4 linked regions of the Homo sapiens genome follow. The protein of the gene in region 1 interacts with the protein of each later gene in a biochemical or structural test. Each region holds a gene or a part of one and is shown on either strand. Other genes may lie near its edges.

Region 1 (7,024 bases):
AGGATGGTCTCGATCTCCTGACCTCGTGATCCGCCCGCCTCGGCCTCCCAAAGTGCTGGGATTACAGGCGTGAGCCACAGCGCCCAGCCTTCTTTCACTCAATATTATGTGAGGTTTATCCATGTTATTAGATATAGTAGTTCATTCATATTCACTATAGTATAGTGTTTCAATATAAGATTATTCCACAATTTATCCATTCTACTGTTGATGGACATTTGGGCTGTTTCCCGGGGAGTGAAAATACTGTGTCAAGAGCTATATGTATGTTCAACTTTAATGAATAATGCCAAATAATTTCCCAAATTGTACCAATTTACACTCCCAACAGAAGGGTAAGAACATTCTATCACTCCATATCCTTACCAATACCTGGCATCACTAGTCTTCAATTTTAGCCACTCTGGTGAATGTGTAGAGGTATTCCATTATGGTTTTAATTTAAATTCCCCAGATTATTAATGAGGTTGAACAACTTTTCATTGGATAGAACCTTTTGTGAAGTGCTTGTCTCTTGCTCATTTTTAAATAGGGCATATCTGTCTTTTTCTTATTGGAGTTCTGCAGATACCTCAGTATAAACCCTTCATTGACTATAATGTGTAGCAAACATCTTCCTCTGAGTTTGCCTTTTACTCTCTTAATGGTGTTTTTTGACGAATGAACGCTTTTATTGTACTACCATCAGTATTTTTAAAAAGTGCCCCAGGTGAGAGTAAAAACTGGAAACAGGGTTGATAACCACTGCTCTAGTTGCTGGAGGACCAGAAGCTGAACTGTCCCAAACAGCAAACTTTGTTCACGTAAGAGTACACTCAACAGGGACTTCAAATGCCAGAGTCTGCAGAAGAACAAAGGTAGGAATCACCAGGCAGCAGGTGAAAAGCAACAGGAGAGGAGGGTAAGAATGGGAAAGGCTCAAGTAAGACGTGACTGAACCTCTAAGGCATTTCATACTGTGACTTTAAAACAACCAATTTTCTGAAAGAGCTGGATACCAATACAAAGGACGGGCCATCTGAAAAGCTTATGAATTGACCAAAACCTACACAACTAGAACCATCCTCATACTGTGTGCAGACTTAGCTGTCCTCCAAGGTTTTTTTCTATATTTTAAGCCAATTTTAAACCAAAATAACATTTCTTGCAATTTTTGTATCTATACTTAAGCTCTCACTTTCTGGCCATTCCAGCAGATAAGAGAATGCAGCTCTGAGTTTTTAACTTGTTAGAAACACCTATCTCTTGAAAAAGATTTGGCAAATGACTTCAAACACAACCACAGCAATAATACCCTACAGCTGAAATTCAGGTCTCTTATCAGCAGAAGAGGGCTGCCATGGCATCATGCCAGGAGGAAGCCAGAAAGGGGGCATCTGTAGTCAAAAGAAAAGTGCAGGGGGCAGGGGGGATTTACTTGTAAGAATTGTTCCATCAAAACACCCCAGTCCTAGCTTCTCTTAAAATTAAATCAGTTATCTCACAAACAATCACAGCTAAAAAGTTTAAACAGGTTGTTAAGAAACCTATCTTTCCTCTCTATTGCCTGACTGAGACCTGAGAAGAATCATATGATAACAGCAACCCTAGAAGGAAGGGTACAAAGCAAACACTGGAGAGTGAGCCCGGAGCACAGTCATGATCTGATCTTGCACAGGCTGCCTCTGTATCCCTGTGGTTGAAATTCAAATAACACTGAAGTTGATCAGCTGTTGGCTTCCCAACCTATGAAAATCTGCTAATCCCATAAGTGGATCACATCTACACTGCACATAATTAAGAAAAGCAGCAGCAGAGAACTCACCTCTATAATATTGTAATCCTAACTCTCATACAGCCTACTCTGATGAGGAAAACATCTTTTCCTAAGCTGTTTTGATATACGCTATTACAGAGGCTTTAAAACCTTGCAGCTATATTTTAAATATGCATAATTAATTGTTTGACGTCATAAAGCCAGTATAGCAAATTGCTTACATACTTTACTGATACTTGACACAGGGCATAGCAGAGAAACTTAAGTCCTGGCTCATTATAGAGAAGGCTTTGGGCAAGACAGTTTATCTCTCTGGGCCTCAGATTCATCTGTCTACATAAGGGGTTAAAGTAGATAATCTCAGTGCCAATTTTTATCCTGCTCATGGTGCCTTGCTAAAAGTGCTGAACTGATTTACTTAGCATTTATGTACTGTCTCCTTCAATACAGTGCCAACTCAACTTAATTCTAGAGCAGGAAGATACTTTCCAACAGCTTAAATCTAGCAGTTTTATGCACGCAATATGAGGATGGCAGGCAGACCTGTGGGATACCCTCCCTTCTAATGGTACCTTTAAAATCCTAACTGGGGCAGTGAAGCAATATGAAATGGCACTTAAAGACATGTTATACTTCCTAAACATTAACTGTTTATGTTAGAATTTCTCTCACCTCATAGTCTGTATTTTCATCACATTCCTCGGTGCTTGTATATCTGCACTTTAGGTATCTTCTTTTCTTTTTGATAGCGACAGGGCTTCACTATGTCAGCCACACTGGAGTGCAGTGGCTATTCACAGGTGCAATCCCTTTGTTGATGAGCACAGCAGTTTTGACCTGCCCTCCTTCCAACCTGGGTCAGTTCACCTCTCCTTAGACAAACTGGTGGTCCCCTGCTCCCAGGAGGACACCATATTGATGCCGAACTTAAGGCAGACACCAGAATGGCATAGCACACTATAACCCAGAATTCATGGGCTCAAACAATCCTCTGGCCTCAGCTTCTCCAGTAGTTGGGACTACAGGCATGTGCCACCACACCCAGCACATTAGGTACTTTCTAATTGCTGGGCTTCATATACTATTGCACCTCCCTCAATATATTTACCACTAAACTAGTGGTTTTCAAATTTGTTTAAAGGAGAAAAACCCATTATTCAAAGGAAATCTTCGGAACACCAATATTTAAAACATGTTTTAAAGGCCAGGGGAGGTTGCTCAGATTGAAAGGAGTGAGGAAGGAAAGGAGCTAAGCGCAATCAGATCAGTTTCTCCCTCCTCCCCTTGTCCACTGAGCCATAAGTGTACTCCAGAAGCGTCAGCAGATTCTGCAGATTCCCAGGGTCTCTGGGAGCTTCACCTCAAACAGGCTTATTTGCCCAGTAACTTAGTCTAGTTTCTGGAATAGGACCTACTACCCCAATTCAGGTATTCTCTTCAAGTTAACAAACTTTAACCCAAATCAAGAGAAATTATTTTAGCATAATCGAATCTCTGGCAGCATATGGAAGTGGCTGCCTCTGGAAAAGGGAACTGGATGGCTAGGAAAGAAGAAGTTATACTTTTGAATTTTATACCATGAATTACCTATGCAAAAAAAAAAAAAAGTAATTTAAAAACAAATAAAAGTCATTAGGCTTCTGTGAATTCCTGTACCTTGTTGTCCATAATTGTCCATTGGCCCTCAGGATTCTGCTTCAAAACACAGTGGTTTCGAGAAATCATCAGGGGGCAGATTTTTGATACCAGTTGGTATGTGACACCAAATCCTCGTCCTACAGTCACCTGGGAGACAACAACAATGCAAGAAATACCATCAGTCATTGTGCTGAAAAGGGAGGTCCTTTACAAATCTCATCAACCAGCAGCATATGCAGGTCCTGACTTAAGAAACCAGACACCTGTGGAACCAAAACAGTGCATCAGCTATCTCCTCTTCAGCTGTCTTGAGAACCACCAAGTAGAAAAAGGCAAACGGTTGTGACAACAAGAGAAAGCTGAAAAAGAGTTATCCATGTATCTCAGGGTTGCCAAGATCTTGAAAGGTCATCTGGTTCAATGACTATGAGATAGAGGAATTCTTTCTACACATCCCATCAACGCATAAATACTGTCAGTAACTTTACATAAGGCAGGCCCTCCAATTTTTAAAATGTCTCTGACTTGGCATTTTTCTCCTTGTAAATTCCATCCATTGGCCCTGGCTTTGCCCTGGGCACCATCGGGAAATCTCCAATCCCCTTTCAATGGCACAGATATAAAGTGAACACTGAGTTTTCTCTTTTCCTGGTTCTGTATTCCCAGTTACTTCAACTTAACTCCCAGGGGATGGGCTTGAGCCTTTGCCATTCTAATGAGTCTGTGAAGGGACTGCTGGTTTATCTTTATTCCTGGATGGCATATTAAGAAAAATAAACTTAATTTCTATTACACAGTCAAACGCAAGTGTTACTTTCCCAGTTCTAGATATTATCACTGGAGCATATAAATTGCATTAGCTTTCATAGCAGATCTAGTACACTGCCAGTGTATCCTCGAACTTAGGAATGATTAAATTTCTTGGTCTCCCCCTCCTCCAAGAAATGCTATCCTAAGTCCTGTCTCTTCTGCTCTATACTTGACTGGATGGAAAACCTTGGATTCAAGCGCAGGACCTTAGATTGATTCCTATTAAATTTCATCTTGCTAGTTCAGCCTATCAAACCAATTTGTCAAGACCTTTCTGAATTTTTAATCTGCCATCAGATCAGACATACTTAATATCTCTTCCACCAAATTTATGAGATGATGCCTTCTATACCTTCGTTCAAGACACAGAATGGGATGCAGCCAAAGGCAAAGTTTTCAGGAAAACCTAGTAAACATTAACCCACACCATCTGGATATACCTTCAGCCAGTTATAATTCAACCAAAAGTCTTTGCATTGGAGTACATATTCTCTGTCTTATCCACAAGAACAGCTTGAGAGCTTCCGGAAAAGGTTGAAAAGAAGCCCCAGTTCACATCTATCATACTTTCCTGTTGGACCAGTCTAGTTCATAACAACCCTGTGAAGGAAGGAAATGAAATTCTTCTGAGTTCCAGATCACAGAATTCCCTTATTCTTTTTTGTTTGTTAATTTTTTTTTGTTTTTTTGAGAGAGTCTTGCTTTATCACCCAGGCTGGAGTGCAGTGGCACGATCTTAGCTCACTGCAACCTCTGCCTCCCGGGTTCAAGCAATTCTCCTGCCTCAGCTTCCACGTAGCTGGGATTACAGGCACGCACCACCACACCCAACTAATTTTTGTATTTTTAGTAGAGACGGGGTTTCACCATGTTGGTCAGGCTGGTCTCGAACTCCTGATCTCAAGTGATCTGCCTGCCTCAGCCTCCCACAGTGCTGGGATTACAGGTGTGAGCCACCGCGCCCGGCTCCCTGCATATTCTTCTTAGTGCACAAACGACCTCTTTAATGTCCCATATCACAACCTTAACTGGGAACTTTAAACCAAAGTTAGCTAAAACTGCCCTCTTCTCTTCTCTTTAAAATCTTTCAGAATGCCTGTCCTCCTCAGTCCCTCAAAGACCACCACGACTCACTGACCTAATCTATTCCTCCCCACAAACTCTTATCTCAGTATTCACAATACTATCCAACCAACTACTCAACCCATAACCCAGAAGCCATCTTTGATTCATCTCTGTCCCTCATCCCCACATTGAAATCACTGGTAAATTATATGGGCTATAATTCAAATATGTCCTAAGTCTGTTCATTCCTATCTCTGCAGCCACAGCCTTAGTCCAAACCACCTGGCCTCCTACTGTTTCTGTTCTCACTCTAGCCCCCATAAGCTTTATAATAGTAACTGGAATAGAAATGTAAAAATTTTAAATCAGGTCATTTTCCTTCTTTCCTTAAAACTGTCCAATCATTCAAACTTCCTTCCATGGCCTATAAGACCCTGAATGTCCTGAGCCCTTCTACTCTTTAGTCTTAACTCATACCATAGTGCCAACACTAGCTGCTCCAGCCCCTCAAACTTTTTTGTTGTTGTTGTTCCTTAAGCCCATCTCCCCGAAGTGCCAGCCTACCTGAGGGTCTTTTCACTTAGCCCCTCTGCTAAGAACACTCTTCTCTCAGATCTTGCACAGGCTCCTTATCTTTCATGTTCCAGCTACTCATAAGCCTACTCTGATTACCTCTGTCTAAAGTTGGTTGTCTGCTTCCCATCATATTTCTTCAGTTATTAGGAAGTACTTATCACAGACCAAAATTATCTTGTTTATTTTACTTTTCCCCTCTGTCCCCGTAATAGAATATAAATTAGATAAGCAGGGACTTTATCTGTCTTGTTTACCACTGTGTTTCTATACCTGGCATAGTGTTCAGTTAAGTATTTGAGAATGAATGAAAGAATAAAGAGGTCTTGCATATGAGTCCTCAAGATTTTAGGGTGGGTGTTTTTAGGTCAGAAGTTAGAGACTGTATTACCATTGGAAAATATGGAGCAGCAGTTGGAACTCATACAGTCTCACTTGTTTCTCTTTAAAATGTTGTGGTGATCACTCCACCAACACTGAGCACAAAGTTTTTCAGTTCTTTCACACTCTGCCAGAATTATATTAATTATAGAAGTTCCTCTGAATACACATATCTGTTAAAAATGGAATGGCTAGGGATTTATCTGTCGTCCATATTCAGTAAAATTTCTATTTAGGTAGCTTTATCTCTAAGAGAGGAAGCATCTCATATTACATGCTAATACTTGAGGGGAGACAGCCAGACTGCCATTGTGAGTAGCCAGGGGAAAACAGTACCAAAACAGTAGAAGAGTGCCTTTTCCTGACATTGCCTCCAACAGACTCTGAACCCAGAAAAAGGAATCATTCTTTTACATCCTTCCCTGCACTGCCTGGTCTTAGAATTTACCTTGGTACTACTGATATTTCACCTATACTGTAGTTAAAGAGTGCAGTGAGGTTACCTGGAAATCTCAGGACCACTCAACATAACACTGAATTTCCCGTGGGAACTGACTGACGACCCATATGTGAGGGGTTGTTTTCATTTACAATAGTTTTGCAAGCCTTTGAGCTTACACACATTATTGATCTAAAAGATCATCCTGTCTTTGCCCACCTTCACTAAGACTATCTCTTTCCTCCTGGGCACAATTCCTACTGTTTCTCAAATAACAAGTAAATCTGGCCAGGTGTGGTGGCTCACACCTGTAATTCCAGCACTTTGGGAAGCCCAGGCGGGCGGATCACATGAGGCCAGGA
Region 2 (7,024 bases), 6.7 Mb from region 1:
AACAAAAAACAACCTGTGGCTTCCAAATCCCTTATCTTTTCATTTATTCATAAAGATTTCTGGTCCCACCCATGTTCCAGGACAAGTTGTATCAATATACCCCAATCCTTTCTAACGCCCTGAGTTCTTTCTTCCACATATCTTCTAATTCGTGGTCTGGGAGGGAAAAGGGTAGTGGAGTTCTCAGGTGGATGACATCTCCAAAGGGGAGAGGACAAAGGCCTCTGGCTTGGCTTCCTGCTTCAGCACTCCAGTCAGCAGGAACTCAGGCGAGAGGAGGGGCAGCCCAACCCGTAGTGGAATGGAGCAATGAGGGAAGTCCTGAGGGCATGTGATCACAACTCTCTGAGGCTGGGGAAGACAGAGCAAAGGCAAAATCAGGTGAAAAAGAATCCTAGAAATGGGTTCAGGACCCACTAACCAGTCTTACCATCACTAAAATAATACCTCCTAATATGAAGCCAAGTGAAGCACACCGCATACTGTCTATGAAATACTCTTGCTAGGCCGGGCGCAGTGGCTCATGCCTGTAATTACACAGCACTTTGGGAGGCTGAGGCGGGTGGATCACGAGGTCAGGAGATCAAGACCACGGTGAAACCCTGTCTCTACTAAAAATACAAAAAAAAAAAAAAAAAAAAATTAGCCGGGCGCGCTGACGGGTGCCTGTCGTCCCAGCTACTCGGGAGGCTGGGGCAGGAGAATGGCGTGAAAACCCAGGAGGCGGAGCTTGCAGTGAGCCGAGATCGCGCCACTGCACTCCAGCCTGGGCTACAGAGCAAGACTCCATCTCAAAAGAAAAAAAAAAAGAAAAAAAAAAAAGAAATACTCTTGCTAGAGGCCAGGCACAGTGGCTCACGCCTATAATCCCAGCACTTTGGGAGGCCGAGGTGGGTGGATCACGAGGTCAAGAGATCGAGACCATCCTGGCCAACATGGTGAAACCCCGTCTTTAGTAAAAATAAAAAAATTAGCTGGGCGTGGTGGTGTGCGCCTGTAGTCCCAGCTACTCGGGAGGTTGAGGCAGGAGAACAGCTTGAACCCGGGAGATGGAGGTTGCAGTGAGCCAAGACTGCTCCACTGTACTCCAGCCTGGCGACAGAGTGAGACTCTCTCAAAAAAAAAAAATACTTTTGCTAGAAAGATGAACCTGAATTTATTCAAGCTTTTACAATTATCTGCAATTTCCAGGAAATATGGAGTACAGAGGAACAAGATAAATTATATGACAAGGAGGCAAACCCAAAATTCCAGACTGAGGAACATTCTAAAGGACAAGTGACCCAGCTTCTGCAGGAAATAGATGGCATAAAAAAAGCTGGGTGGGTTAAGGGATGCTCTAGAGTAAAGATAATTAAGAAGATAATAGGTGTGGCAGTATGTGGACCTTATTTGAATCCTGATTTGAACAACTGTATAGAGACATTTTTCAGACAATGGGAGAAATTTTATTAATGGAGTGTGAGCAAATGACCAATAAACTACTGTTAATTTTGCTTAGGATCAATAATGGCATTGTGATTATGAAATAAAATGTACGTATTTCTTAGAGATATATATTTAAGTATGTAGGAAGAAATAATATAATATTGGCAGTTTGCTTTAAAATATTTCAGCAAAGAAAGAGAAAGGAAAAAAAGAAAGAATAAAGAAAAATAAAAAGAAATGAAATACTTCAGCAAAGAAAATCAAAGGAAAAAGCCGGGCGCGGTGGCTCACGCCTGTAATCCCAGCACTTTGAGAGGCCGAGGCGGGCAGATCATGACCTCAGGAGATCAAGACCATCCTGGCTAACACAGTGAAACCCCATCTCTACTAAAAATACAAAAGAATTAGCCGGGCGTGGTGGCGGGCACCTGTAGTCCCAGCTACTCGGGAGGCTGAGGCAGGAGAATGGTGTGAACCCAGGAGGCGGAGATTGTAGTGAGCCGAGATTGTGCCACTGCACTCCAGCCTGAGAGTGAGACTCCATCTCAAAAAAAAAAAAAAAAAAAAAAAAAGAAAATCAAAGGAAAAAAGGGATAGATGGAGCAAATGTAGCATAATCTAAATTAAGCTGCTGCTGAATCTCGGTGATTGTTATATGGGGGTATCAGCAGATCTGTCCCCTCATTCCTATCCCTTTCTATACCATAGGTCTTTTCCCCCACCCTCTCACTACTTTATATTCCTTTCTGAACCTCCATTTTTTTCCCTCCAATCTTTGCCATTCCAGCCACCTCTTTAACTGCCACTGCCACCTCACCCAGACCCAGAACATCCTAAGCATACCTTATAGGACCGAGGCATGCTGGGTAGGTATGTGCCTCCACAGCAGCTAATAATCTCTCCCATCTGAGGTGGTGGTGGCTGGACTCCAGGGGTCACATAGATCTCATAGCCCTAAGAGAAAGAAATGATGGAGATGGTATTGTAGATTGGGAAGCACTGGAGGGAGGGCTGAAGCACAGGTTAAAAGATAGCCTCTCACCTCTAGCAGCCTTCGCTCCCGAGCCCTGCTCAGTGCGTCTTGAAGGCTAAAGCCAAAGTTCTTCTCTTGCTCAGGGTCGGTCACCACATATTCATCCGGGGGTAAGAAGAAACCAGCCTTGCGGGACTAAGGACGGCAGCAGTCAGCATCAAAGCTCAGCCCAGCCCCTCAATCAGCTCTGCTGCCTAGCATTTAGAGAGAGCTCACAAAATGTCTTTTAAATCAATGCAGGCTTCTGGCTCACCAATGCCCCTGTCTTCCTGTAACGCCTCTTCCCTTCCACCACTTTCTAGGGCACTATATGAGCAGTCTTGCCACTATATCGGTCTGTCATCATCCCTTGGCCTCTCACCTGATGCAGCCAGTCCAGGGACAGAATGGGGATTCCCCGCCCCAGGGCACACAGGAACTTGACTGTCCGGCGGATGCGATCAGTGACCAGGTGGGAAGCCTCTGCCGCTGAACCAGCCAGACTTCCCCCCAGTGCCAGCACAGCCCGCTCTCCCCGAGCATCCACCACTCCTGTGAAGAGCACCTGTGGAAGGGTTGACCTGAGGTGGTTACGGCAACCCATGCCATCAGCACCCATCTCTACAATCCTCTAGGTCTCCTTGCATCCTCCCCTCATCTCTGTCTCCCACAAAGTCCCATGCCTTTGTCTCTTACTTTGGGGGCTGTTGATTCTTGGTTAAGTTTGGTCCGTCGGAGGCTGCGGCTTGGTATTCTGTTGGGCTCCTCCTCTGCCTGGTCTCTCTTTCTCTTGCCTGGTTTTGGAGTCACGACATCCTGAGATTGAGAAAAATCTTGGTGGGAGTTTCAGAGCCCTGAAGTCATTTTTCCCAGCTTTGTGGTCCCAACCCTCTCCTCACCTCTTCCTTCCCTGGCTTCTCTGCAGTATCTTCTTCCTCTTCCTTGATAATCACTGTCTTCTGGGAGACTTCCCCTCTTTGGGGCTGTTTTTGATGTGGTGGTGAATCCATGGTAGCTAAAGACCTCTTGCGGCTTTGAGAGGCCTTAGGCTGGAGCTCCGGGGTGAACCTAGATCTACCTGCTGGTTCCACCTTTTGGATCTGGGAGGCATGAATTGGTGTCTCAAGAAGCTGGGGAGAGGCAGGCTCAGGAATGGCTGTAAGGGATTCAGCTGCTCTCACTGCTCCCCATCTTTGGTTCCTTGAGGCCTGGGATTTAGGTTCCAAGGGTGCAGAGCAAGGCTTATGGTCAATGGGAGCTGCGAGGGAGCCAGGGTTCCCAGCGGCTCTCTGCCTCTTGATGCAACTGGGTTGAGTAATAGGCTCAGGGGAAATAGGCTGGTCTGTGGTGACAGGAGATTGGAATTCAGGGGTGGTAGGAACCGGCATAGCTCTTACTGTGGAAGACCTCAGTGTTTTGCTCTGACCACCCTGAGCTATGGCCTCAGGGGTGACGGACTGGTCTGTGGGGGTAAAAGGCTCAAGATCAGAGGCTGCTGGTTCAACTGGTTTGGGAGTCTTGACAGAGGACCTATTTGTCTTTCTCCTAGTGGCCCTAGATGTGAGCTTGGGGGTGACAGGCTGGTCTGTGGAGGTGGTAGGATGGGGCTCAGGGGCTGTGGGGACAACTGGCTCAGGGGTCTTGACAGAGGACCTATTTGTCCTGCACCTAGTGGCCCGAGATGTGGGCTCAGGGGTGACAAGCTGGTTTCTGGAGGTGGAAGGCTGAAGCTCAGGGGCTATAGGGACAATTGATTCAGGGGTCTTGACAGAGGACCTATTTGTCCTGCCCCTAGTGGCCCGAGATGTGGGCTCAGGGGTGACAGGTTGGTCTGTGGAGGTGGAAGGCTGGAGCTCAGGGGCTGCGGGCACAACTGTTTCAGGGGTCTTGACAGAGGACCGATTTTTTCTTCCCCTAGTGGTCCGAGATGTGGGCTCAGAGGTGACAGGCTGGTCTGTGGAGGCGGAAGCCTGTAGCTCAGGGGCTGTGGGGACAACTGTTTCAGGAGTCTTGACAGAGGATCTATCTGTTCTTCCCCTAGTAGCCTGAGACGTAGGCTCAGGGGTAACAGGCTGGTCTGTGGAGGTGGAAGGCTGGAGCTCAGGGGCTGTGGGGACAACTGTTTCAGGGGTCTTCACAGAGGACCTATTTGTCCTGCCCCTGGTGGCCTGAGATGTGGGCTCAGGAGTGACAGGTTGGTCTGTGGAAGTGGAAGGCTCGAGCTTAGGGGCTGTGGGGACAAGTGTTTCAGGGGTCTTGCCAGAGGATCTATTTTTTCTTCCCCTAGTAGCCCGAGATGTGGGCTCAGGGGTGACAGGCTGCTCTGTGGAGGTGGAAGGTGGGAGCTCAGGGGCTATAGGGACAGTTGATTCAGGGTTCTTCACAGAGGACATATTTGTCCTGCTCCTAGTGGTCCGAGATGTGGGCTTAGGGGTGACAGGTTGGTCTGTGGAGGTGGAAATCTGGAGCTCAGGGGCTGTGGGGACAACTGTTTCAGGGGTCTTGACAGAGGACATATTTGTCCTGCTCCTAGTGGTCCGAGATGTGGGCTTGGGGGTGACAGGTCGGTCTGTGGAGGTGGAAGGCCGGAGCTCAGGGGCTGTGGGCACAACTGGTTCAGGGGTCTTGACAGAGGATCTATTTTTTCTTCCCCTAGTAGCCTGATATGTGGGCTCAGAAGTGACAGGCTGGTCTGTGGAGGTGGAAGGCTGGAGCTCAGGGGCTGTGGGGACAACTGGTTCAGGGGTCTTGACAGAGGATCTATTTTTTCTTCCCCTAGTAGCCTGAGAGGTGGGTTCAGAGGTGACAGGTCGGTCGGTGGAGGTGGAAGGCTGGAGCTCAAGGGCTGTGGGCACAACTGTTTCAGGGGTCTTGACAGAGGATCTACTTTTTCTTCCCCTAGTAACCTGAGATGTGGGCTCAGAGGTGACAGGCTGGTCTGTGGAGGTGGAAGGCTGGAGCTCAGGGGCTGTGGGGACAACTGGTTCAGGGGTCTTGACAGAGGACCTATTTGTCCTGCTCCTAGTGGCCTGAGATGTGGGCTTGGGAGTGACTGGCTGGGCTGTGGAGGTGGAAGGGTGGGGCTCAGGGGCAGCAGAGGTAGCTGGAAAGGGTGTCATTCTGGAGGACTTCCGAGTTCTAATTTTAGGCTTTGGGTGGAAAGGCTCCAGCTCTGAGGACAAGGGAGCCTCTGGAGCTTCCTGACTCCCATCTTGCCTGGTCTTACGAACGGTTGGCTTGATAGAAGGTAAAAGGGGAGAAAGAAGGGGCGGAGGTGCAAGATGTTTCTGGCTCTGAGAGTTAAGGGGCTTTTGGGGTGGGGCTGGGGCTTCAGGTACTGTAGGAGGCAGACAAGCATCTGGAGATTCCTGATCGCCCTAGGGAGAAACAGAAGCAAGTGAGGGGGAGGAGGTGGAGAAAAGAGATAGAACTTGGATACTGTTCTTGATACTTGTTTATGGTTAGATAGGCTTACCAGATTTCCACCGGGCGTGGTGGCTCACGGCTATAATCCCAGCACTTTGGGAGGCCGAGGCGGGCGGATCACGAGGTCAGGAGTTCAAGACCAGCCTGGCCAACATAGTGAAACCCCGTCTCTACTAAAAATACAAAAAAAAAGGCCAGGCATGGTGGCTGATGCCTGTAATCCCAGCACTTTGGGAGGCCGAGGCGGGTGGATCACAAGGTCAGGAAACCGAGACCATCCTGGCTAACACGGTGAAACCCCGTCTCTACTAAAAAATACAAAAAATTAGCCGGGCGTGGTGGCGGGCGCCTGTAGTCCCAGCTACTTGGAAGGCTGAGGCAGGAGAATGGCGTGAACTCGGGAGGCGGAGCTTGCAGTGAGCCGAGATGGTGCCACTGCACTCCAGCCTGGGGGACAGAGCAAGACTCTGTCTAAAAAAAAAAAAAAAAAAAAAAAAAATTAGCTAGGTGTGTTGGCAGGCGCCTAGTAGTCCCAGCTACCTGGGAGGCTGAGGGAGGAGAGTCGCTTGAACCCGGGAGGCAGAGGTTGCAGTGAGCCAAGATCGCGCCACTGCACTCCAGCCTGGGTGACAGAGTGAGACTGTCTCAAAAAAAACAAAAAAATACACAAAAATTAGCCGGGTGACATGCGCCTGTAGTCCCAGCTACTTGGGAGGCTGCGGCAGGAAAATTGTTTGAACCCAAGAGACGGAGGTTACAGTAAGCTGAGATCACGCCACTGCACACTCCAGCCTGGGTGACAGAGACAGACTCTGTCTCAAAAAAGAACAAAAACAAAAAATATGCTCACTGGATTTTCCTTTCTGTCTATGATCTCTCCTCCATTAGACTGGGATCTACCTGGGAAGCTACCTTTTTCCCACAGACCTGTCTCCATAATGCTACTATAGTGTTCTCCACACGTGGATGATGGTAAGGAAAAGGATGGCTGGGGCAAAGAAAGAAGAAACACGAAGGGTCTTTCTTTTGAGTCAGGTAGGAGATACAACTTAGGAAACAGATATGGAAAACAACGGGTGCCGAGGATAAAGGAATAGAAGCCAATCAAGGCGTGACAAAAATGGAAGAAAACTGAATAATGAGAAAGGAATAGATTAA
Region 3 (7,024 bases), on another chromosome or scaffold:
GAAGTTAAACACATGCTCTTGAACAACCAATAGGTCAATGAAGATATTAAAAAACAAATTAGGAAGTTTATTGAAAAAAATGAAAACTGAAACACACAGCATACAAAGCCTATGGAATACAGCAAAAGCAGTTTTAAGACAGAAGTTTTTATAACAATAAACACTGACATCATATGTCTTCTGCAAACAGGAACAGTTTAACTTCTTTTCCAATTAAGATGCCTTGTATTTCTTTCTCTTGTCTTATTGCTCTTTCTAGGACTTCCAGTATTATGTTGAACAGAAGTGGCAAAATTGGGCATTGTGCAGCTGGGCATGGTGGCTCACACCTGTAATCCCAGCACTTTGGGAGGCCGAGGCGTGTGGATCACCTGAGGTCAGGAGTTCGAGACCAGCCTGGCCAACATGGCGAAACCCCATCTCTACTAAAAATACAAAACATTAGCCAGGTATGGTGGCGTGCACCTGTAGTCCCAGCTACTCGGGAGGCTGAGGTGAGAGCCTGGGAAGTTGAGGCTGCAGCGAGCCGTGACTATGCCACTGCACTCCAGCCTGGGTGACAGGTTGAGACTGTCTCAGGAAAAAAAAAAAAAAAAAGGCAATCTATGAAACTACTAGAAAACAGGAAGAAAAGTCAATGGCATTGGTCTGGGCAATGATTTTTGGAGGATATGACCTCAAAAGCACACTCAACAAAAGCAAAAACAGACAATTTGGATCACATAAAACTAAAAATCTCCTGCACTGCAAAGGAAACAATAAAGAGAGAACTGGCAGGCGCGGTGGCTCTCGCCTGTAATCCTAGCACTTTGGGAGGCTGAGGCAGGCAGACCACCTGAGGTCGGGAGTTTATTACCAGCCTGACCAACATGGAGAAATCCCGTCTCTACTAAAAATACAAAATTAGCAGTGCATGGTGGCACATGCCTGTAATCCCAGCTACTTAGGAGGCTGAAGCAGGAGAATCCCTTGAACCCAGGAGGCAGAGCTTGCAGTGAGCTGAGATCGTGCCATTGCACTCCAGCCTGGGCAACAAGAGCGAAACTCCACCAAAAAAAAAAAAAAGAGAGAGAGAACATACAGAATGGTTCACTATACTCGTAAACTATATATCTGATAAGGGGTTAATAACCAAAATATATAAGGAACTCCATTCAATACCAAGAAAATAACCTCATGTAAAAATGGGTAAAAGATCTGAATAGACATTTCTCAAAAGACATACAAATGGCCAAGAGGTATATGAAAAAAATTCTCAACATCACTAATCATCAAAGAAATGCAAAAAAAAACCCACATGAGGTATCACCTCACTCCCATTAAAATGGCTATAATCAAAAGGATGAAAGATGAGGCCAAGCGCAGTGGCTCACGCCTGTAATCCCAGCACTTTGGGAGGCCAAGGCAGGTGGATCACCTGAGGTCGGGCGTTTGAGACCAGCCTAGCCTGGCCAACATGGTGAAATCATGTCTCTACTAACAATATGAAAATTAGCCAGGCATGGTGGCGGGTGCCTGTAATCCCAGCTACTCGGGAGGCTAAGACAGGAGAATCGCTTGAACCTGGAGGTGGAGGTTGCAGTCAACTGACATCTCGCCACTGCACTCCAGCCTAGGCGACAGAGCGAGACTCTGTCTCAATTAAAAAAAAAAAAAAAAAAAGGCTGGGCACGGCGGCTCACGCCTGTAATCCCAGTACCTTGGGAGGCCAAGGTGGGAAGATCACCTGAGGTTGGGAGTTCGAGAGCAGCCTCACCAACATGGAGAAACCCCGTCTCTAATAAAAATACAAAATTAGCCAGGCATGGTGGTGCGTGGCTGTAATCCCAGCTACTCGGGAGGCTGAGGCAGGAGAATTGCTTGAACCCAGGAGGTGGAGGTTGCAATGAGCCGAGATCATGCCATTGCACTCCAGCCTGGGCAACAAGAGCCAAACTCCGTCTCAAAAAAAAAAAGATGACAGATAACAAGTGTTGGTGAGTATGTGGTGATAAAGGATAATCTAAGCATGCTGTTGGTGGGAATGTGAATTAGTACAACCATATGGAGAAAGAAGAGTATGGAGTTCCTCAAAAACCTAAAAACAGAGCTACCGTATGATCCAGTAATCCTGCTACTGCATATATAGCCAAAGAAAATAAAATCAGTATGTCAAAGAGAGGCCTGCACTCCCATTTTATTGCAGCACTACTCAAAATATGCAAGATATAGAATCAACCTAAGTATCCATCAACCAACAAATGGATAGGCTGAGCGCGGTGGCTCACGCCTGTAATCCCCATACTTTGGGAGGCCGAGGCAGATGGATTGCTTGAGGTCAGGAGTTTGAGACCAACCTGGCCAATATGGTGAAACCCCATCTCTACTAAAATACAAAAATTAGCCGGGCTTGGCGGCGGGTGCCAGTAATCCCAGCTACTAGGGAGCCTGAGGCAGGAGAATTGCTTGAACCCAGGAGGTGGAGGTTGCAGTGAGCTGAGAACGCGCCACTGCACTCCAGCCTGGGTGACAGAGTGAGACTCCGTCTCAAAAAAAAAAAAAAAAAAAACCACACAGACAAATGGATAAAGAACATGTGGTATACGTATACAGTGGGACACTGTTCCAATCATAAAAAAGAAGGAAATTCTCTCATTTCCAACAACATGGATGAACCTGGAGAACATTATGTTAACTGAAATAACACAGGCACAGAAAGACAAATACATATTATCTCACTCATATATGGAGTCAAAATTGATCTCACAGAAGTAGACAGGAGATGGTGGTTACCAGAGGTTAGGATGGTTGGGGTTACGGGGGTGGGGATTGGGAAGATGTTAGACAAAGGATACGTAATTACAGTCAGGAGGAACAAGTTTAAGAGCACTACTGTATAGCATGGTGATTAGTTAACAACATACTGTATTCTTGAAAAATACTCAGTAGCTATTAAGTATTCTCACCACAAAAATGATAACTATGTGAGATAATGTATTTGGTAATTAGCTAGATTTAACCATTCCACAATGTACAGATAATGTACTTCAAAACATTAGCAAGCATTGTTCAAATTAATTTTTTTTTTGACACAGTGTCTTGCTCTGTCGCCCAGGCAGGAGTGCAGTGACACGATCACAGCTCACTGCAGCCTCAACCTCCCAGGCTCAACCCATACTCTACCTCAGCCTCCCAAGTAGCTGGGACTGCAGGTGCACATCACCACACCCAGCTAATTTTTGCATTTTTTGTAGAGATGGGATTTTCTTGTATTGCCCAGGCTGGTCTTGAACTCCTAGGCTCTAGTAATCCACCCACCTCGACCTCCCAAAGTGCTGGGACTACAGGTGGAAGCCACTGCACCCAGCCTCAAGCTACTCTTGACAAGCCTTATTTTTTTTTTTTTTTTTTTTTGGAGATGGAGTCTCGCTCTGTCACTCGGGCTGGAGTGCAGTGGCACAATCTCAGCTCACTGCAAGCTCCGCCTCCCGGGTTCATGCCATTCTACTGCTTCAGTCTCCCCAGTAGCCAGGACTACAGGTGCCTGTCACCACGCCCGGCTAGTTTTTTGTATTTTTGGTAGAGACGGGGTTTCACCATGTTAGCCAGGATGGTCTTGATCTCTTGACTTCGTGAACCACCCACCTCGGCCTCCCAAAGTGCTAGGATTACGGGCGTGAGCCACCACGCCCAGCCAACAAGCTTTTTTTAATGAAATAAAACATTTTAATTCTTAATATCTGATACTTTAAATTATGACATACTAAATATTAATTTTACTGGTTTCATTTTCCTGCACATTTTTTTTTTTTTTTTTTTTGAGGCAGAGTCTCTCTCTGTTGCCCAGACTGGAGTGCAGTGGAGCAATCTCAGCTCACTGCAAGCTTCGACTCCCAGGTTCACACCATTCTCCTGCCTCAGCCTCCCGAGTAGCTGGGACTACAGGCGCCCATCACCACACTCGGCTAATTTTTTGTATTTTTAGTAGAGATAGGGTTTCACTGTGTTAGCCAGGATGGTCTCCCATCTCCTGACCTCGTGATCCGCCCCCCTCAGCCTCCCAAAGTGCTGGGATTACAGGCGTGAGCCACCATGCCCGGCCCTTTCCTGCATATTTCTAAACAGGGAGAGTTCTTAATGTGTTGACATTTTTGAAGGTCTCAGAATAACCATAATTTTCCCAATTATTAAGACTGCTTTGGGTAGTTTTTTGCATGGCCATTTTTACCTCTGCCAACTGCCGTTCAAAGGACTGCCTGTACAGTGAGGTTGTACCATATTATCAAAAGCATGTTTATCAAGAGAATTCAGGCTCCCAAATGACCTAGAAAAATCAACCAGGCCAGTTATGGAAGCCTCAAGAGGGAAATACACTAGACTACCATAGTTCAGCTCTTCTATCGTTTAGTTCCCAAGTTCTAGGTTATGATTTAAACTATGTAATTCTCTTCTATCACCACACCCGAGTTCTGTCCATATCCAAGTATCTTCATCTAAAGAGGAAAACAAGATGATGTTGTCCAATCTTTTCACAGATGGGATGGGAAAAGCAATGTTTAGTGATTAACTGACATGCCCATGGTGGCACAGTAGTCTGTCAGGGGCAGCAGGGAACTCAGAACACTGCTAAACTAGTTCTTCCAGTATATACAATGCTACCCACTTCTGAAGAAGGCAATTAGTAGGTTATATTTTGGTTTTGTTTTCTGCCTACATAGCAGAAAACATATTCTTTCATCAATTTTTTCTGAGTTTCTCATAACTCAAAGACATTTTCCAGGCATCTACAGTCAGAGACTAGAGCTTCACTGTACCATTAATATTACCTAAGTGATAAATGTAAAACGTTTCATGTGGGCCGGGCGCGGTGGCTCACGCCTGTAATCCCAGCACTTTGGGAGGCCGAGGCGGATGGATCACGAGGTCAGGAGATCGAGACCATCCCGGCTAACACGGTGAAACCCCACTTCTACTAAAAATACAAAAAAAATTAACCGGGCATGGTGGCAGGCGCCTATAGTCCCAGCTACTTCGGAGGCTGAGGCCACAGAATGGCATGAACCCAGGAGGCAGTGCTTGCAGTGAGCCAAGATCACGCCACTGCACTCCAGCCTGGGCCACAGAGCGAGACTTCATCTCAAAAAAAAAAAAAAAGTTTCACGTTACAATGTAATGTGGTATCCTGGATGAAGTCCTAGGACAGCAAAAGTACATTAAAGAAAAACTAAGGAAATCTGAACTTTAGTTAATAATAAATGTGTCAATATTGGTTCCTTAATTGTGACAAGTGTACCATACCAATATAAGAAATTAACAGCGAAGCCAGATGCAGTGGCTCACACCAGTGATCCCAGCACTTTGGGAGGCCAAGGCGGGCGGATCATGAGGCCAGGAGTTTGAAACCAGCCTGGCCAACATGGTGAAACCCTGTCTCTACTAAAAATACAAAAAATTATCCGGGTGTGACAGCACACACCTGTAATCCCAGCTACTCGGGAGGCTGAGGCAGGAGAATCACTTGAACCCAGGAGGCAGAGGTTGCAGTGAGCCCAGATCACGCCACTGCTCTCTAGCCTGGGCGACAGAGCAAGACTCCATCCCGAAAGAAAAAAAAAGGAAATTGACAGGGAAAACTGAATGTGAGGTGCATGGAAACTTTCTGTACTATCTTCACAACTTTTCTGTAAAACTAAAACTATTGTATTTTTTTAAAACTATTGCACACGCTTTTTTTCTTTTTTTTTCTGAGATGGAGTCTCACTCTTCTTACCCAGGCTGGAATGCAATGGCGTGCTCTCGGCTCACCACAACCTCTGCCTCCCGGGTTCAAGAGATTCTCCTGCCTCAGCCTTCCGAGTAGCTGGAATTACAGGCATGTGCCACCACGCCCGGATAATTTTGTATTTTTAGTAGAGACATGGTTTCTCCATGTTGGTCCAGCTGGTCTCAACCTCCCGACCTCAGGTAATCCGCCCACCTCGGCCTCCCAAAGTGCTGGGATTACAGGTGTGAGCCACCCCACCCGGCCTGCACATACTTTTCTATCTAAACTAATTGTTATTATTAATGCTGGAATCTAATAAAATTTTGAATCATGAGTACTAAACAGTATCAAATTTCTATTCCCGAGAGTAGCTTCTTAACCTCTGTCCTGTGAAATACTCTTGAATTGCATGGGTAACTCTGTCTCTTGGAAAAGGAGAACCTAGCTGGTGAGGGCTACGTTCCCCTTTCATCCATAAGAAGGATCTAAGAGTCTGAAACAAGGATTGTGCTAAGAAGGGAAGTGTGAAAGGGAGTAATTAAGATTCATGTTCTGAGAAATATTCCAAATTCAGAGTTCTTCATAATGGAGAGCGCATCAGACTAAGGGTAAAAGACCTGGATTCTAGTCTTGCCTGTACTAGTAACCACCTATGTATAGCCTTTTACTTGTTTGAGCCTCAGTTTTCTCATCTGCAAAATAAGAAGACCAGATGGGATGGCCAAAAATGTTTCTGCTTAGAAGTCTCCGTCTGGCCAGGCACAGTGGCTCAAACCTGTAATCCTAACCTCAGGCCAGGGCAGGAGGGTCACTTGAGTCCAGGAGTTCAGACTACACTGGATAACATACGGAGACCCTGTCTCTACAAATAATTTAAAAATTAGCCAGGTGTGGCAATGCGTGCCTGTGTTCGCAGCTACTCGGGAGGCTGAGGTAGGAGGATCACCTGACCCCAGCAGGTCGAGGCTGCAGTGAGCCATGATCGCATGCCACTGCATTCCAACCTGGGCAACACAGCAAGACTCCGTCTCAAAAAGTCTCAGTCTAATTAAAAGTTTTTTCCTTCCAAAATTCTCTTCCAGTAGAAGGAAGGGTTAAAGGGGCTAAGGTATATGATGCACACTGAACTAAAGATCAAAACATATTTGTCAGGGTTTTTCTTTTTGGCCTCTTAAACAACTGTTATCGAGATACTTTGGCTTAAATAAAAAACACGTGTATTAGACCAAGCTCAGTGGTTTATGCCTGTAATCCCAGAACTTTGGGAGGCCGGAGCAGATG
Region 4 (7,424 bases), on another chromosome or scaffold:
ACAGTTCTGACAATATTTTATCTGTCAAAAAAAAAGTTTAAAATTTACAAATATCTTTACTTGTGAAAAACTTTCAAAGACTACTTGACATTCTAATTTAACCATTTCTGTTTTCCCTGATTTTAGGTACAGCACTTAAATTTAATAAACATTGAGAGAAAGAGGAGAAAATACATAGGCCTGAGTTAAGGGGGAGAAAAGCAGTTCTCTGATTTGATTCAAATTTAAGATGATTTCAAAACTTTAGATGTGTCTAATATGTTCCGCATCAACACTATACCAAATTGAGAATTTTAAATTATGTCAAAGACTGCTGCCATTCAAAAATATTATCAAGTTATTAATACTTCATTACTGAGACAATAAGGGTGAAAATCCATAGAAAAATATGAGTATTTATGAATCACCACAGAATGCAATATTTGATCAGTTTTTATATTCTTTTTCCTTTAGTTATCAATAAAAATTAACAAAATGTCAAAATTGGTTAATGCTGTAAACATTATACATTTTATGTATAATTACTAGAGTTTGTGGATATTCCACTACTACTACCACTGATAAGAGTCTCATTGACAGAATCTTTTTTTCTCCATCAGAAAACATCAATCAATAGGAAACAAATGATCTTTCACTTACATCCAATTAAATATGTTTCTCCTGCTGTTGAGTATTAACTTGTCAAGCACATCCACAAGTTTCAGAGTGAAGAGGCCCAAGGACAATGCAAGTTTTCTATCACTAGTGACACCTCAAATTGTAAAGGGCTACTTTTCAGTTTGATTTGCCCTCACAAGCACAGGAAGGGATAATCATAATTTAACCAGGAAAGTTACCTGTGATATACGATTGAAAGTCATGTTTTGTAAAACTGTAAGCAGATTTGCAGCACAATTTTAAATCTGCTTTCAAATATAGCAAAGGCCTGAATTTGCAAATTTTCTAGCAAATATGATCATTTCTGATCATTAAGTTTCATGAAGAGAGGCACTGCTAATCTCTGGAAGTGTCAATTTCATTAAAGAAGATTATGACTCATAAAAGGAACATCCCCAAAGTACCATCTAATTTGGGTTCACCAAATTTTCCTTGCCAACTCCTTAAACAATCTGTCAGAATGTTAGTCTAATCTCTACTCAAGGACACTCTTAACTGAAGTTACCGAAGTACAGAATTAAGTTTGCTTAAAAGTATAATTCTAGTAATGTTGCTTACATACCACCTAAAGAATGACAACTCATTCAAGTACAATTAAACTGATAATGAAGTAAATATTTCTGAACTACTGCTATTGAGGTAAAACCAACAAAAGCGTCCAACCACCTGGAAGACAACCTGACAAAGTGTGCTGGATCCTTCTTTTACACATTACCTTTTAGCACTAGTGGATAACTTAGCAGTGGTTTTGCTAGAGAGTTTGGTGTTTTTCTTCTGCTGGGTGGCAGAAGGTTTTCTTTCCTCTTGTTCTTCAGGCTCTGGAGCGGCTGGGTCTCGCTGGTCCGCATCTGAACTGCCACTGCTGGTGCTGGGGCTCTCATCATCGGACCTTTGCCTATCACTGGACATCTTGGTGAAGTTATCTCTTGGAAAACTTTTAAAGAGAACAGGGGAGGAGGAGGAGAAAATGTTAAATCTAGGAAATAAACCAACAGCATTTTCTTCTAGTCATCTAAAATCGTCTTGTAATGAAAAAGCTTCAAAAGTGTTCACACTTATTTCATCGTACAACAGGGGTACGTACAAGGGAGGTGATGTGTCACACAACGCCAGCGTTAAGGGATTTGCCGAACTCAAGTTAGAAAACCCACTCACATTTTTTTCCGTCTCTTGGACAATCTATCAATTGTCTACTTTCTCAGAAGGCATGAAACAGATTTGCCAAGGAACTTAGGCAACAAGCATTAATAACATATGACACACTGTAAATAACAGATCTCGCTGAAAAATGTTTAAAAGTCACTAATAACGTCTAAATATTTACACACTGACATTGGTCAAAGCTACCAAATTCCCTTTCCGAGAGGAAAACACACCCTGTTAATCGCCCATATGCTTATTTAAGGTGGCGATTCCTCCTCAGTGCACGTAAAGCCTTTAAACACAACACTTGGAAATTTAAAAATCAACTAACGAGCTGCTCTAGCTGTTTCCACGGCCAGCAGCGAAGATTCATCCGGCCAAGACCGAGCTGCCACCCTGGGAAAAGCAGAATTCAAACTGCACCTTCTGCAAAGCTCCCAATGCCACCAAGGTTCCTCGCTCAATTTTTATATCACGGACCGACATTTTGTCCAAAATAACGAAAAAAATAAGAAACCCAGAGAAAAAACAAACAAATAAACAAAGCCCCAAGAAGTGCAACAAATTTCCGCGCCCGCGGAGGCGAGCCACGGCCGGCGGCGGCGGCCACGCAGCTCCGCGGCCCTTTGTGGGGAGGGCCGCGCGGGGGCCGCGGGTAGCGCTCGCCGCGCCGGGCGCCAAGTGATGCGAGCAGCCCAGCCGGCCCCGCCGCGGCTCGCGGACACCGGCGACGCGGGCGCCCGGCGCGAACAAAGCTGCCCGCCCCCGCCCCCTCCCCCACCGCCGCCGCCGCCCCGGCCGCCCCCCACGCGGCCCCCCGGCCCCGCCGCCTTACCTCGGCCGCCCGCCCGGCCCGCTCGCGCGCCGCTACGGTGTGGGGGAGGGAGAGAGAAAAAAACCCTTCCTTAAGGAAATGGAGGCAGCTGTGGGGGGGGGAAGGGGGGGGAGGGAAAAAAAGAAGCCGAGGAGGCTCTGGCCGGGGAGTGTGGAACATTGAAAGTCGGAGGGGGTTGTGCAGTGCCGGGCTCCGGCCGGAGGGTGGCGCCGCCCAGCGCCTTCGGAAAAAAGCGGGGGTGGGAGCTCGGCTGGGCGAGGGCGCGAGCTCCCGGCGAGGCGGAGGGGACGCGGGAGACCCCCGCGCGCTGTAGCCTCCCGCCGCCGCCGCCCGGCTCGGCTCCTCCCGGCCGCGCAGTCAGCAAGTTCCGAGGCGAGCGCGGGGGGGAGGGGCGGGCGCGGCGGCGACGCGCGTGCTCGCTGCTTGCCTGGCGGAGGGGCGCGCGCCGCCGACGCCCGGCGGGCGCGAGCTGTTCCCGCGCGCTCCCGTGCGCGCTCTCCACACCTCCCCTCACCCTGGGGGTGCACGCGTCCGCCCGCGCGCGGCCAGGACAAAGAGCGCGGCGGGGACCCGGCGGGCTGGCCCCTGCCGCCCTTGGCCGCGGAGCCTGTGCCAGAGAAGGCGGGGGCGCGGGCACCGTATCGCGGGGCCGCTGTGCCGCGGGGTGGCTTCCGGCCTGGGCCCGCCTCCGGGGCGAGGCTGCCCATTGGGCTACCCGCGTCCCCAGGGCTGGTTCCATCCCATCCGCCTGCGCGGGGGCCGTCGTGGCTCCCGGGGCCCCAGTACCTGGGCAAGGGCCCTGGGCGCGTGGTTGGGAGTCCCCCGCCGCCCCGGGAGACGGGAGACTAATGGGTGTTGTTGACGAGGCCAGGCACGCAGGCGGAGAAGAGCTGCCACTTGCCCCTCGCGTAAGCTGGAGGAAGGGACAAGTTGGGGTCCTGGGAATTGAAGAGGGTAGAATGTATTTGGAGATTAGGGGAACAACCTCTATTTCTTTTTGGCTCATAGCTTGCAACTGTCGCTGCCAAAGGGAAGTGTCCTTCGGATTATTTGAAACCTTAAAAATCCAAAACAGTGTTTAAAATGTCCCGCTCAACATTCTTAAAAGTGAAGGAGAAGAGTTTGGGGTTGGGGGGTGGCGATGAGAGCTAAAACATGACACTTTTCTGCGGGACTCTTCTGTCTTGCACATGAGGAGCCAGTTCTGGAAAGAAAAGTTCTGAGTGATGTTGAGTCAGAATGTCCACCCAGAAAAGCTTTAGGTGGAGATAGTGACAGTTTTGTTTGTTCTACCATTCTTTTTGCAGTCTCCAGGTGGACTCTGCGGTTTTTACCCCACGGCACAAAGTAGCCAGAATACAAAAACTTCCTGTTTGCCACCCAGGCCTTCTCCAGCTACTGAGAACTTGTTCCGGTGATGGAGCCTCAAAGGAATTTGTGGATTCCTCTCCCACAAGTGTCCAGGGGCAGGGGTGCTGTGAGAATGTGCAGTTCACAAAGGGAGTGAGAATGGCAGTCAAAAGATGTATAGAGTTAAGGGAAAGAAGAAAAGACTGAGTGAGCCAACGTATTTGCTTACTATTTCTCCTAATAGAAAACTTTTGGTAAAGGCTTGATAGCAACTCTAAAGAGTAAGTTACATTTCCATAATTTTCCAAAGACACAGTCATTCAGTTAACTTTATTGAGGGCTATATGTTGCTAGGTGCTGGACATACACTCATTCAATTGCTGTGTGACTAAAGCCAGGTCTCTACTCTGTGCTAAGAGCTCCTAGTCCAGAAGGGGAACAGTTCATTAAAGTTCGCTAGGTTCATAAGTAGTAAGGATATTCCACTCAGAATGAACAGATAGAATATCTCATGCCTCAAAAAAGATCATGGTCTGTGTGTGGACAAGCATTTTGATTTGGCTGGGTCAAAGAGTGCTTGTGGGAAAAGCTTGTTAGTGAAAATAAAAGCAGAATTTTCCCCCAGCTTTACACGATGTGATGTTACAGCAAAAGCCAGCCAATTTGGAGTTGAAGCTTTGCTTTGTTTGGAATGGGGAGACAGAAAAGGAAAGCTGTACGTTAAACATGGGTTCTTTTAGGAAATTTAAGAACAGAAATAGCCTGAAGGCCCAAAGGCCAATTGCTGATAGGATTTAGTGGGGTAAGGAGCTTAGGGGAGAAAGATATTTAGTTGTTTGGTAACATCTTCTACAGAAGAAATAGTATTGGGTTGAAAAGCCAGGGAAGTGTATTCTAATCCTCATTCTACGAAGTTCATATGACCTCAGGCAAGTTAAGTTATTTCAATTACTTTTATGTAAAAGGAGATTGTATCAAAGGTTCTAAGTCCTCTCCTGCTCAAAAATTCCATGATTCCGTGATTCTTTGGCGAACTTGAAGTCATGGAGTTTAACTTAACATTCACCCAACAGAATATTTAGGATCTACTAACTGCTTGGGAAACTGGAGTGAAACATGGGTCATGCTCTTAACCAAGCTCAATTGTGCAGTGGGGCAGCCAGAAACGTAGCCTGCAGAATGAGAAGTGCTGTATTAAAGAAGTAAAGAGAATGAGAAAAGAGCATTACTAATCATCAATTAACTAATAATGGAACTATTAATTCAGGTTGGAATTGTGGGGCATGAGGTAAAGGTCAAAGAAGGAAACATTAGATTGGTCCTGGAGAGAGCACTAGGGCCAGTGATAATGTAGATAATATAGATAATGCTCTTGGCAAAATACCTGGAATTTGGGTGTTCAACAAATAATACCTATTGTTAAAGTCACCGTAAAGATAATGAATGGCTCCATAAGGTTAGGGGCAGTAGTGCCCTGCCCCTACAATGTGAGGTGCCTGGCTGCCTTCATTCAGCTGACTCAAGGGGTTGCTCAAATGATTTCAGCTCACAGCTCCTCTCCCAGGTGACTTGGCATCACCTCCACCAGAAGTAACTTGTAAGGTGTAAATTGTTTCTAATGTTTAGTTCTTCCTTGTGTGACAACCTGTTTTGTAATTATTTTTTCTCTCTTGTTTTTGCTATGTCAATCCTTGAAATTAAGGATCATGTTTCACAGGCACTCTTGGAAGCATACAAATTTGACCTAATGCAATTATTTCATAAAATATAAAAAGGGCCCTTTTCCCATAAGGTCCCTCAGAATAGTTCCACAAGCAGACACCAGCTACCACAAAGAAGATTGTTTCCTCTCAGTCTCTTTTATTTTCTCTTGTTGGTGTGGGGTCCTGCCAGCCTCTCACAACCCTGAGAAGGGCAGTGGTAAGAGGGAAGATGCCGAATCCAATTGCAGTATTACAATGATTATCTCTTATCCCCTTATCCACCAAATGTTGTGACAAAAAGAGGCCTGCCTAAGGGCAAATAAGGCAGACCCCAGAATCCTTTGCACCTCCCTAGTTTGGGAGATGCTTTTTCCTGCGCCTTTCAATGAGTCTCAGTGTTATCTGTGTACATAACTGTGAGTATGTATAACTAAGAATTTCACAGGATCTATCACTGAGTTACCTAAGAAGTTTCTGAATTGAATGATTATGTAAGCTGGGGTATAGACCTCTACTTATCCACCATGACCAGCAGCATCCCTCACATGTAAAAAATGTAGAATAAATATGAATTTATTTTGTTGATTTTAAGGTACTTTGTTTCCTTCCAGTCAATAACTTTTCTAAGAGTCCCTTCATTTTTACTGGCTGTTTCTGATGCTTTCCAGTTACTTGTATCCTCAGTTCTCTGGCTAAGAAATTTTCTTTCTCTACCCATAAAGACTGGATTGGTTTACTAGGAAGGTATTTCTTGGCTCAGCCTTAGTTTACACAGCCTTGTTTGTCATTGTTAGTCCCAGTGTCTTTGGACCCCCAGAATCCAATGTGCCGCTTGACATCTGGGTGCACTTCCACTGCATCCTGAGGGGAAAACCTGCTGTGTCCTACACCAAGGGCTGGGCCCTGGAGTTGGAAAGGTGCATAAGCCTTGGTTTGACGTCAGATAACTCAGTGATTATTTTCTGTATTTCTCTTTTGAGATAACTCTCAGGGAAGGTATATACCAAAAAAGGCTCATGTCATGGTAAGGAGCCTGTACACATGAAACAAAACCGTGAGCACCTTAGTATGTCAAAAGGCAAAAATTTTTAAAGAAATATTTAACATTATAACAAAAATGTAGTCTTGCTAGTTATCCAGAAAGGAAAGTTGAAATGAAATATCTATCAAAATAACAAAAACAATTTTTAGTTATTATAATAATTCCTGGCAAATTGTTTTTTAAAAAATCCCTTTGTCCATTTCTAGTAGGAATGAAAATTGGTACATGTTTCGAAAAGGAATTTGGAAATTTTTTTCAGGAGCCTTAAATGTGGCCATACCCTTTGACCAGATTTCTCCATTTCAAAAGAAATGTACTTCAAGGAAACATTCTAAAAGTGAGAAAAATGATACTGAAAAACTGGAAATGTCCAACAATATGCAAATGATTACACATACTGATTCACCCACATAATTAAATTTGCCATTATTAAAATAACAGTTGTGAAAAGCAAGCTAAAATACAAAAACAGATTATTATAAAATACACTTAAGGTAGAAGTTTGTCTATTTTAGTTACTGGGAAATCAGAGCCTGCCTCAATACCTCTCAAGGTACCGAGCACAAAGTAAATCATCTATAAATATTTGTTGAATGAATATGCATCATATTTTTACAATAAGCAAAACAAAAATGTCTGAAAACAAAAGGTTGACCAGTACCTAGATTTTAGAGTGACTATGAATATGAACAAC

What was found.
Region 2: the proteins of RNF8 (region 1) and MDC1 form a complex in vitro, tested with the Homo sapiens proteins (2 studies listed by BioGRID and IntAct, with this or other methods).
Region 3: the proteins of RNF8 (region 1) and UBE2V2 form a complex in vitro, tested with the Homo sapiens proteins (2 studies listed by BioGRID).
Region 4: the proteins of RNF8 (region 1) and UBE2E3 form a complex in vitro, tested with the Homo sapiens proteins (one study listed by BioGRID).

Annotation. Positions count from the first base shown.
Region 1 is NC_000006.12:37,356,963-37,363,986, reverse strand, and holds part of RNF8 (E3 ubiquitin-protein ligase RNF8), read right to left. Parts: intron 3,542-7,024; coding exon 3,413-3,541; intron 1-3,412. UniProt on the Homo sapiens protein: E3 ubiquitin-protein ligase that plays a key role in DNA damage signaling via 2 distinct roles: by mediating the 'Lys-63'-linked ubiquitination of histones H2A and H2AX and promoting the recruitment of DNA repair proteins at double-strand breaks (DSBs) sites, and by catalyzing 'Lys-48'-linked ubiquitination to remove target proteins from DNA damage sites.
Region 2 is NC_000006.12:30,700,282-30,707,305, forward strand, and holds part of MDC1 (mediator of DNA damage checkpoint protein 1), read right to left. Parts: intron 5,818-7,024; coding exon 3,340-5,817; intron 3,257-3,339; coding exon 3,137-3,256; intron 3,006-3,136; coding exon 2,823-3,005; exon of another isoform or gene 2,786-2,822; intron 2,597-2,785; coding exon 2,471-2,596; intron 2,383-2,470; coding exon 2,272-2,382; intron 352-2,271; coding exon 184-351; 3' UTR 1-183. UniProt on the Homo sapiens protein: Histone reader protein required for checkpoint-mediated cell cycle arrest in response to DNA damage within both the S phase and G2/M phases of the cell cycle.
Region 3 is NC_000008.11:48,011,420-48,018,443, reverse strand, and holds part of UBE2V2 (ubiquitin-conjugating enzyme E2 variant 2), read right to left. Parts: intron 1-7,024. UniProt on the Homo sapiens protein: Has no ubiquitin ligase activity on its own. The UBE2V2/UBE2N heterodimer catalyzes the synthesis of non-canonical poly-ubiquitin chains that are linked through 'Lys-63'. This type of poly-ubiquitination does not lead to protein degradation by the proteasome.
Region 4 is NC_000002.12:180,976,185-180,983,608, reverse strand, and holds the start of UBE2E3 (ubiquitin-conjugating enzyme E2 E3), read right to left. Parts: upstream 3,005-7,424; 5' UTR 2,636-3,004; exon of another isoform or gene 2,597-2,635; intron 2,552-2,596; exon of another isoform or gene 2,132-2,551; intron 1,592-2,131; 5' UTR 1,567-1,591; coding exon 1,373-1,566; intron 1-1,372. UniProt on the Homo sapiens protein: Accepts ubiquitin from the E1 complex and catalyzes its covalent attachment to other proteins. In vitro catalyzes 'Lys-11'- and 'Lys-48'-, as well as 'Lys-63'-linked polyubiquitination.